Homo sapiens: one gene and its partners. The protein of the gene in region 1 interacts with the protein of each later gene in a pairwise test. Each region holds a gene or a part of one and is shown in the gene's direction. Other genes may lie near its edges. The genes, in order: CKMT2, CETN3 and ELN.

The links.
Region 2: the proteins of CKMT2 (region 1) and CETN3 interact in binary tests that used the Homo sapiens proteins (3 or more experiments, as listed by UniProt).
Region 3: the proteins of CKMT2 (region 1) and ELN interact in a two-hybrid assay, tested with the Homo sapiens proteins (one large-scale study listed by BioGRID and IntAct).

What each region holds. Positions count from the first base shown.
Region 1 is NC_000005.10:81,257,236-81,260,888, forward strand, and holds part of CKMT2 (creatine kinase S-type, mitochondrial precursor), read left to right. Parts: intron 1-497; coding exon 498-621; intron 622-1,884; coding exon 1,885-2,019; intron 2,020-3,653. UniProt on the Homo sapiens protein: Reversibly catalyzes the transfer of phosphate between ATP and various phosphogens (e.g. creatine phosphate).
Region 2 is NC_000005.10:90,403,173-90,406,825, reverse strand, and holds part of CETN3 (centrin-3), read left to right. Parts: intron 1-1,026; coding exon 1,027-1,141; intron 1,142-3,653. UniProt on the Homo sapiens protein: Plays a fundamental role in microtubule-organizing center structure and function. As a component of the TREX-2 complex, involved in the export of mRNAs to the cytoplasm through the nuclear pores.
Region 3 is NC_000007.14:74,045,119-74,048,771, forward strand, and holds part of ELN (elastin isoform a precursor), read left to right. Parts: intron 1-103; coding exon 104-175; intron 176-1,069; coding exon 1,070-1,099; intron 1,100-1,577; coding exon 1,578-1,649; intron 1,650-2,556; coding exon 2,557-2,598; intron 2,599-3,023; coding exon 3,024-3,083; intron 3,084-3,384; coding exon 3,385-3,438; intron 3,439-3,653. UniProt on the Homo sapiens protein: Major structural protein of tissues such as aorta and nuchal ligament, which must expand rapidly and recover completely.

The sequences.
Region 1 (3,653 bases):
AATTATGTGCCTGAAGGAGCAGAAATAAAAAATGTTCATGTGCAGCTGCTCTGTAGGGATGGACAGGCAGGATCCATGGAGCAAATGTGTGAAATGTTGTGTACCTTCAACATCTTGGGTGGAAGGTAACCCCCACCCGCTTTTTAGAGCACAAGATTTTGGTTGAATCTTTTAGGAGACAAAACATTCTTGTTAATGTCGAAGCCAAATGTTATATAGTTGAATTACTGTCATCCTAGTCAGAGGACCTAGGGGGAATTAATTATATTCTTGTTTGGTAAAAACATGACATCTTTTAGGGTGAGAGTTGGTCTTAATCTTCCTTCTGTCAAAGTAACATTATTTTGTCATACTTGTTCAGGCACAGTTAAGAGATTAGGGCCATCTAGGAAATGAGGAAGGTGAAATGAAGCAATCAAGCTAGGGAGGTAATGGGAATTTTCATGTGTTGAAACAAATGCAATTAACACTCAGTACCATATTTCTCTCTTCATTAGGCATAATTATGATAAGACATTTCTCATCTGGATAAATGAGGAGGATCACACCAGGGTAATCTCAATGGAAAAAGGAGGCAATATGAAACGAGTATTTGAGCGATTCTGTCGTGGACTAAAAGAAGTAAGATGTTATCTGAGATTTCTGGATATTTATTAAAATAAAATTACCGTATTGTTTGTTCTTGAAAGAAGACACTATGGTAACTTCCAAGATGGAGCTAATTTTTTTCTAGAAATCAAAGCAACTGCCGCCTCCCAGGTTCAAGTGATTATCCCGCCTCAGCCTCTAGAGTAGCTGGGATTACAGGTGCCACCACCACACCTGGCTAATTTTTGTATTTTTAGTAGAGAGGGGTGTTTCACCATGTTGGCCAGACTAGCCTCGAACTCCTGACCACAGGTGATCTGCTGGCCTCAGCCTCTCAAAGTGCTGGGATTACAGGCATGAGCCACCACGCCCAGCCTCAAGGCATTTTTTGGATGAGCCACCACGCCCAGCCTCAAGGCATTTTTTGGAGTGCAACTTCCAAGGTAGTGCTTCAGAAAATAAGTGACTTTCTCTTGTTATTAGAAAGCTATTACGCTTACTTCCCCATTCCACTGTGGTTTGGGGAAGTCTGTGGATCATTACTTGTTTTTTGATTTATTTAATATCGCTCTGAGCTATTCTAAGCATACAGATGACAGAGAATGTAGCCTGACCATAGACTCACCTGCTGATAATTCCTGTATTCTCCTACTCTCTTGGCATGAAAAATGCCACCAACTAACATTCATCAAGTGCTTAGTACAGGCCAGGTACTATGTTGACTGCTTTACATCAGGGGTCCTCAACCCCGGGGCCACGGACCTGGTACAGGTCTGTGGCCTGTTAGGAACTGGGCCGCACAGCAGGAGGTGAGTGGTGGGTAAGCCAGCATTACTACCTGAGTTCTGCCTCCTGTCAGATCAGCAGAGGCATGAGATTCTCATAGAAGCACAAACCCTATTGTGAACTGCGCATGTGAGGGATCTAGGTTGCGTGCTCCTTATGAGAAACTAATGCCTGATGATCTGAGGTGGAACAACAGTTTCATCCCAAAATATTCCCTCCCTACGATCTGTGGAAGAATTGTCTTAAAACATTCATTATCTTTCAAGACACCGGTCCCTGATGCAAAAATGGTTGGGGACCACTGCTTTACATGGTTCATTTAACTTAATTGGGCCATTTTAATAGTCTGGTAGGAGAGGTATTATTTTCTCTTAAAGGAGTACTATAAATTTACCTTAATTTCATTCATGCCAGAGGAGGGTACACATCTCTCTCTCTGGTGTTAGGGATGTGCTGAATGAATGGATGTTGGAAAATGCTGTCATTTGTTCACTGTGGTTCTACTTGTAGGTAGAACGGTTAATCCAAGAACGAGGCTGGGAGTTCATGTGGAATGAGCGCCTAGGATACATTTTGACCTGTCCTTCGAACCTTGGAACAGGACTACGAGCTGGTGTCCACGTTAGGATCCCAAAGCTCAGCAAGGTACTGTTATGTGCCCAGTGGCCCTGATGGGCCAGGATCAGCTCAGATGCGACTGCTTTGTGGAGGAAGAAAACATCACTGCCCATTCCTTAACCCTTACTTTCTCTATCTACAATATAAAAATAAGAAAAAAATTAAGTTTGCCTCCAAAGACATTTGTATTAGTTAGAATAAAAGGTTCAGGGGCTGTAAGAAAAAGATGGTAGCTTCAAGAATAAGGCCTTTACATTTTTCCTCATGTAACAAATCAGGATAGGTAGGCTCTGCTCTCTCTGGTTCTTTCTATCTCCTTTCTCCATCTCTCCTAGTTCAAGCAGTTCTCAAACTTGAGCATGCAAGAGATCACCTGAAGGACTTGGTAAAACACAAGTTGCTAGGCCCCACCTGCAGAATTCACATTTCTAACAAGTTTCCAGGTGATGCCGGGGTTGTTGGTCAAGGGACTACACTTGGAGGAACGCTGTCTTAGAGCACTCTTCTTAGAGACCTACAATGAGACTTAGACTCCCACACAATAACAGTGAGAGACTTTAACACCCCATTGTCAATATTAGATCAACCAGACAAAATTAACAAGGATATGCAGGACTTGAACTCGGCTCTGGACCAAGTGGACCTCATACACATCTATAGAACTATCCACCCAAAATCAACAGAATATGTACATTCTTCTCAGCATCACATCGCACTTATTGTAAAATCGACCCCACAATTGGAAGTAAAACACTCCTCAGCAAATGCAAAAGAACGGATATCATAACAGTCTCTCAGACCACAGTGCAATCAAATTAGAACTCAAGATTAAGAAACTCACTCAAAACCGCACGAATACATGGAAATTGAACAACCTGCTCCTGAATGACTACTGGGTAAATAACGAAATAAAGGCAGAAATAAATAAGTTCTTTGAAACCAATGAGAACAAAGACACAATGTACCAGAATCTCTGGGACACAGCTAAAGCAGTGTTTAGAGGGAAATTTATAGCAGCAAATGCCCACAGGAGAAAGCAGGAAAGATCTAAAATCGACACCCTAACATCACAATTAAAAGAGCTAGAGAAGTGAAAGCAAACAAATTCAAAAGCTAGCAGAAGACAAGAAATAACTAAGATCAGAGCAGAACTGAAGGAGATAGAGACACAAAGACACAAAAAAACCTTCAAAAAATCAGTGAATCCAGGAGCGGGTTTTTTGAAAAGATTAACAAAATAGACCACTAGTCAGGCTAAAAAGAGAGAAGAATCAAACAGACACAATAAAAAGTGATAAAGGGGCTATCACCACTGATCGTACAGAAATACAAACTACCATCAGAGAATACTATAAACACCTCTGTGCAAATATACTAGAAAATCTAGAAGAAATGGATAAATTCCTGGACACATACACCCTCCCAAGACTAAACCAGGAAGAAGTCAAATCTCTGAATAGACCAAAAACAAGTTCTGAAATTAAGGCAGTAATTAATAGCCTACCAACCAAAAAAAGTCTAGGACCAGACAGATGCACAGCTGAATTCTACCAGAGGTACAAAGAGGAGCTGGTACCAGTCCTTCTGAAACTATTCCAAACAATAGAAAAAGAGGGACTCCTCCCTAACTCATTGTATGAGGCCAGCATCATCCTGATACC
Region 2 (3,653 bases), 9.1 Mb from region 1:
ATCTTCCTTTATAATGTCTGTTCCATTTGTAACCATTGACTATCTTGGTTTGGGACCTTATTTCATACCTGGAGCTTCCTAAATGATTTCTTACTAGTTCACCTTGTACACTACCACTGAATTTAGATAGTTTAAAAATTCTTTCACCATTGCTCATAAATTGTTCATTGCTCATAAACCATAACTCCTCATTGTATACTACTTAAAGTTCAGATTCCTTTGCTTTCTACTGAATGTTCTCTACACTTTTGCCACCAACTACTTTTTTCATTTGCTAACTGCTTTCTTCCTCCTGAACTCTTCTAATTAAGGTGGAATTCACCTCCTAATTCAGGTGAGCAGTTTACCTCACCTGAACTTTTCTAATTCAGGTGAGGTAAACTGCTCTGTTCATTGTCCTTCGAACCTATTCGTTTCAGTGTTTCTTTTAATACCAGTCATCCTTCCCAAATACCCTACTGCTCCTCTTCATCTATCCTTCAAGGAACAGTTTGAATCTTTCCAAATAAGACTTCTCTAGTCAGTAATATGTCTCCTTCCTTATTATTAGTAACAAAATCTCTTTTTTCTCTAAACTCAGGGTCCTTAGCCCTATCATTTACCTGGTAACTAATCATGGAAAGACTGATGATAATTCTTGTTTTAATGTTTTATCTCTTCTATCATGTAACTGTTTAATATTTATGCCACGCCTTTTTCTCATTTTGATTGTTAATCCCTTCAGAACAAATAACAATCAAATTATCTGTGCAATAAGTTAGTGCATTTTATATAGTAAAATCTGTAAACACTTGTTGGTTACTTTGTCATATAAAAAATGCAATTTATAAATGAAAAAACTTATGCATACTTAATTTCAGTAGTGAAGAACAATTACACTATCACTGCTATTTTAAAGAGGTAAAACATGCAAAAAAGTTATATTTTATTAATGTGTTGTCATCTCTTAAGATGTAAAAACTTAATAATTAGAAATTCTTTTGTAAAGAGTGCTTTATAATTTGCTTTTCCTTTTTAATCCAAAAGGTGGCAATGAGAGCCTTGGGGTTTGATGTAAAAAAAGCTGATGTACTGAAGATTCTTAAAGATTATGACAGAGAAGCCACAGGGAAAATCACCTTTGAAGATTTTAATGAAGTTGGTGTGTATTTTAATAGTCTTTGTAATCAGCAGCTGTTAGGAAATTGTCTGATTAATATCACTTTTTAAATTTTAAATTCTCTAGGTTATGGAATTTTCTTATAGAACACTGGTGTATAATGTGACTCTTACTCAGTTTTGTTTTGTTGGTTTTTTTTTCAAAGAAAAAATATGGCTTTGCTCTGAGATTTATAGTTTTGTCTTTTGTTTTGTTGTGAAGATTCTAACCAAGGAACTATTGTGTAGCTTTTTATAGAAAGATGCTTTTCCAAGTTGTTTGTATTTATATTATGTGATAAAACTTGAAGGGTGATCAAAAAATTATTTTTGCTTAATAAAACAGAAAATTTGATATCCTGCTGTTTGGAAAATGTTTCCCAAGACCTTTCTGGTATGTGATTTTTGTTGGCTAAGTGGGAGAAGAGGGAACTGGTAGTAGTTGGTATCTTTGGCTGTAGATGAAATGCACGACTTCAGGTTGACAAAGTTTATGAGAGGCTACATCCTCTGGATGACCTTGATCTCAGTGGATAAAGTCATCTGTTTAGAGGGTAGTAGTAAAGGAGGCAGTGGGCATACTGGAAGCAGGAGAAAACATCCTAGTACCACCAACTGAAGATAATGTGTCATAGGCTTAATATGGCTAAATTTTTTTATAGTTGATTTTAGTGAATTATTTATAGCATATATAGACCAGGCTTTTTCAAAATAGAAGAGTCCGGAAGGCAAGGATGTTGCTATTATAACTTAAATGTATTGTCTAGAATATTATCTACAAAATATGTAAATATTCAGGTTTATTTCTTTTTTTTTTTTTCTCTAAACCAATGGGTCACGATATAAGCACATCATATAAGTATTTTAAGATATTTTAAAAATTTGGAAACAAATTCTGCTATATACACAAACCCCTTATTTTAAATATTAATCAAGAAGCAATAGGGGAAGCAAAAAGAAATGGCAATTAGTAGACGCAGAGAAAATTTAGATTCATGTCATTAGTCAGTTTTTTAAATCCAAAAGCTCAAGTCATAAGCAGTTGAGATGGAAAATAAATGATGAACCTAAGAGAAAAAAAACACAGCACAGAAGATCCTCAACTTATGAACTAATATATGACTGTTTAGAGAGGCAACTTGTCCATTGGGGACATTTTCCTTTTTTCCTCTAATTTGTAGAATTAATTATTTGAGGAAAGGGAGAGAGCCACCTTTTGTTCTCCCAGAATGGACACTCTCCTGAAGTTTATGATCGTAGTATTCCTAGTTTTACCTTAGATTGTTTATTTGTAGAAACAAGGTGTTTGTATATAGTGGAAATGGTACTATTAGGAAGGAGCTATAATCCAGGTATGTTTAGTACAGTATAGTGGTTTAGCACTTGGAACCAGATTCCCTTGGTTCATACCTTGGTTTTGCCACTTTACAGCTCTGGAACTTGGTCTTTTTAATACCCCATGCCTCATTTTCAACTATAAAGTGGGGATCATTGTATTCTCTCATGAGATTCTTCTAAGGATTAAGTTAATGATATGTGAAGTACCTAGAAAAGGGCCTAGCATGTTGTAAGTGCTACTAAGCATTTGCTATTATTATTACTTTAAAAAATTGTCTTTGTTTCAGGGGCTCGAAATAATCATATATGCATCACTGGGACATAAAATAGACTTTGTGTATATTTTTTATTGACTTTTTTCATAAAGGCTATTGTAAGCACTGTATCATCACTAATAATTTTACAAAATATGTTATTTCACCTTAAATGAACACAATTTAAAAATTGTGATTTTTTTTTTTTTTTTTTTTTTTTTCTTTTGAGACAGAGTCTCGCTCTGTCGCCCAGGCTGGAGTGCAGTGGCGGGATCTCGGCTCACTGCAAGCTCCGCCTCCCGGGTTCACGCCATTCTCCTGCCTCAGCCTCCCAAGTAGCTGGGACTACAGGCGCCCGCCACTACGCCCGGCTAATTTTTTGTATTTTTAGTAGAGACGGGGTTTCACCGTTTTAGCCGGGATGGTCTCGATCTCCTGACCTCGTGATCCGCCCGCCTCGGCCTCCCAAAGTGCTGGGATTACAGGCGTGAGCCACCGCGCCCGGCCAAAAATTGTGATTTTTATTGGCAGTTGGGACCAGAATCCCATGCCACCTCCACTTTTTCCTGACACCCCATCTGTTCTATGTTATTAACAGAGCAGAAATACTGGGTTCCTTCTAGAATAAATAGATGTGGCTAAACTTCAGCTTTGACACTAAAAGATTAACCTTTTGACAGGGTCAACATGTATCTTAGCTATCTTAAGGCTACCTATGGAGAGTACCAGGTGTCAAATAAAAATGTATTACTGTTTGGGAATCATTCAGGAACTATGTATTACCCCTTTTGTTGATTATTTTTAACTAATCACTGACCACAGATTAATATGTTTTATACTTTGGGACAGATGATTCTAAATCATAACATTTGAGTCCTAGTTTTATGAACTACCCAAGGACACTGTTCCACAGATATATCTGGA
Region 3 (3,653 bases), on another chromosome or scaffold:
TCAGTCCCAAGGGAGGTCAGCTGGGGGACCCGAGGAGGGGAGGGGTTCCCAGCAGGGCCTGCAAGGCCTGCCTTCCTACACTCACTGCTTTGTCCCCCGGCAGGAGCTCGGTTCCCCGGTGTGGGGGTGCTCCCTGGAGTTCCCACTGGAGCAGGAGTTAAGCCCAAGGCTCCAGGTATGCAGCTGTCTGGACAGAGGGCTGATGGCAGGGACTCTCCAACCACCTTCTGGCCCCGGGTGTGAAATGGGGTGGGATCCTGGACTGGCTCAGGGCCCTCTGGGTGACACTTTTTATGTTCCAGCCCTGGGCAGCCTGGTGCTGAAAAACCTCAGAGTGTGGCTGGGCACACTGGCTCACACCTGTAATCCCAGTATTTTGGGAGGGTGAGCTGGGAGGATCGCTTGAGCCCAGGAGTTAAAGACCAGCCTGGGCAACATAGCAAGACCTTATCTCTACAAAAACATGATTAAAAAATTAGCCGGACATGGTCACACACACCTATGATCCCAACTATTCAGGAGGCTAAGACAGGAGGATCTCTTGAGCCCAGGAGATCAAGGTTGTCGTGAGCTATGATCACACCACTGCACTCCAGCCTGGGCAACAGAGACCCCGTTCCCCCGCAAAATAAGAAAGAAAGAAAAGAGGGCCAGATGCAGTGGCTCATGCCTGTAATCCCAGCACTTTGGGAGGCCGAGGTGGGCGGATCACCTGAGGTCAGCCTGACCAACACGGTGAAGCCCTGTCTCTACTAATAATACAAAAATTAGCTGGGCGTGGTGGCCTGCACCTGTAATCCCAGCTACTTGGGAGGCTGAGGCGGGAGAATCGCCAGAACCTGGGAGGCAGAGGTTGCGGTGAGTTGAGATCACCCCATTCCACCCCAGCCTGGGCGACAAGAGCGAAACTCCATCTCCGAAAAAAGAAACCCCAGAGTTCATGTGAGCGCAGCATGCGATGACTGGTCTGGGAAGAACTGGCCATTCCTTGGGCCTCCTGGCCCCTTGGTGCTGTCTGGCCCAGTGTCCACAGTTCCAGGGCTGTAGTGACAGCTTTTTATCATTACAGGTGTAGGTGGAGCTTTTGCTGGAATCCCAGGTGAGGCAAGGCTGGTGGGAGAAGCAGGGTGGCCAGCCAGGCAGAGGCTCTGGCGTTGGGAGGGGTTGGGCACCCAAGATCCCATCCAAGCCTGCCCAATTTCTCCCACGCCTGCAGAGCCAGGTCTTGCAGTGGCTGTAGCACAAAGTGGCACCCATCCCAGGCCTGCTCCCCCCACTGGCATAGCAGCCCAAAATTCAAAGGAGTCCAGAAAACCCTCCAGCCTGTGCCAAGGGCTGCAGGCCCAAACTGGGGCCCAGGCCCCAGGAGGGAGAGAATCCCGTAGCTTCCTGGAGGAAGTGGCCTGTCACTGGGAATTTCTCAACTGACCCATGATGGAGATTCAGGGAGTCCCTCGAAGCAGGATGGTTTCTGGATGCTGTAGCAAGCTCCTTCTGTCTGAGCAGAAAGTGGAGTGGGTGGCGGAGGGTTTGGAAGGGGGTGCTGGGACCTGAACTTGCTCTCTTTATTCCCACAGGAGTTGGACCCTTTGGGGGACCGCAACCTGGAGTCCCACTGGGGTATCCCATCAAGGCCCCCAAGCTGCCTGGTAAGTCAGAGGGACGGTTCAAGATGCACCACTCGGCCGGGTGTGGTGGTTCACACCTGTAATCCCAGCACTTTGGGAGGCTAAGGCGGGCAGATCACTTGAGGTCAGGAGTTCAAGACTAGCCTGGCCAACATGGCAAAACCCCGTCCCTACTAAAGATACAAAAATTAGCCAGGTGTGGTGGCATAGGCCTATAATCCCAGCTACTGGGGAGGCTGAGGCAGGAGAATCTCTTGAACCCAGAAGGCAGAGGTTGCAGTGAACTGAGATCGCGCTACTGCACTCCAGCCTGGGTAACAGAGTGAGACTCTCCTCCAAAAAAAGAAAAAGAAGAAAAAAAAAATGTACCACTCACTGCACCTCCCTGCACAGAAGTCAGCCTGGGTACAGGTGTCTCTGGTGGCAGGGAAGGGGTGTTGAAGCCCCTGTATGGTCACCAGCCAAGGAGAGCATGGGAAAGTCATCTGCAGGTATTGAACTCACACACACACGCTCATGCACAGAGACCCATAGTCCCGATCTGAAGCTATTAGGCTGGTGGAAAGGAACACGGTTCATTGGAAAGATCCCTCTAACATCCACCCACTCGTGCTCCCGCCCCTACCTCTGCAATCAGCTTAGACAATAAGATGCTTTCCACTGAGGAGGGGGTGTAAGGAAAATACTCAGACTCCAGGGCCATGATGGGGCTTGAATTTGTAGGGGGATGGGTGTTCCATGGGCCTCGGGGGCAGAGGTGTCCTCTCCCTCCTTCACCCAGCGCCTTTGCTCTCCTGGGAGCAGCTCAGGACCCTGATGTGGGAGGTCTCAAGCTTTAGCACCTGTGGGGGTAGATCTGTCCACCCAGGTTGGTGGGAGCCCAGCAAGGCATGGGGCAGCCCCTGAGTTTGCTCTGTCCTCTCTCCAGGTGGCTATGGACTGCCCTACACCACAGGGAAACTGCCCTATGGTGAGTGAGACCCTTCTAGACTGTGGGCTTCCAGCTCTTTCCCTCTCCAGGGTCCTAGCAAGGGTGCTGTGCTTCCAGCCCTGGGCCAGGAGAGCACCTCGCTGGGGCAGGGTTGGGGTCTTGGAGTGGGAATCTCAGAAGGAAAGGGCATGGAATTTGGACTCAGCATGGGTCTCCATCCCTGCCCTCCCACCTATCAATAATGAGACCTTAAGTGAGCTGTGTTGCTTCTTTGAGCCTCTGTGTTCTCATCTGTAAAATGGACATAACAACTCCATACATGTGTTTGTATTTGTTTTCACTCTGGCTGGGGGTGACAGGTGCAGACTCAGGACAGCTTGGGCCCCGAGGGCAGAGCAGGGGGAGGGGGAGGGCAGCAGTGGTGATGTCTGCACAGATGACCATCAAGCCTCTCTGTTTTGCAGGCTATGGGCCCGGAGGAGTGGCTGGTGCAGCGGGCAAGGCTGGTTACCCAACAGGGACAGGTAAGGAAAGCCTCACGTCACTTCCAGCCAAGGGAGCACTGATCTTCCAGGCTCCAGAGCCCTGGGGTGGGTGAGGTTCCCTCCTGAAAGCAGCAGCCCACCCTGCATCCAGACCCTGGTCCAAACCTGGAGCAGGATCCTGGGGGAGGAGTGGGGCAGCTCCATCAGCCTCTGCCTACTCTGAAGCTCCCATGTATACCCACATGTCAGTGGATTGGCTCTCTTGGGGCTGGGAACAAGTGGGCTCTGGAGATACAGGAGCACTGTTTCAAGGTCTCTCCCCTCTGCTTCCTTCCCCCAGGGGTTGGCCCCCAGGCAGCAGCAGCAGCGGCAGCTAAAGCAGCAGCAAAGTTCGGTGAGTGCCCCTGGAGTCCCCACCTGGTGGCCTCCAGGCCCCTAGCCTCTCCATTCCCATTACTATTGACAGCCTGCCTCCAAAGTGGCCCCTACATACCCCCATTTACTCAAAATTTTCAACATCACCCATCTATCTATCCCTCCCTCCAACCATTCTTCCATGCATCCATGTATCCATTCATCCTTCCATCAATCTATTACTTTCTCCATCCC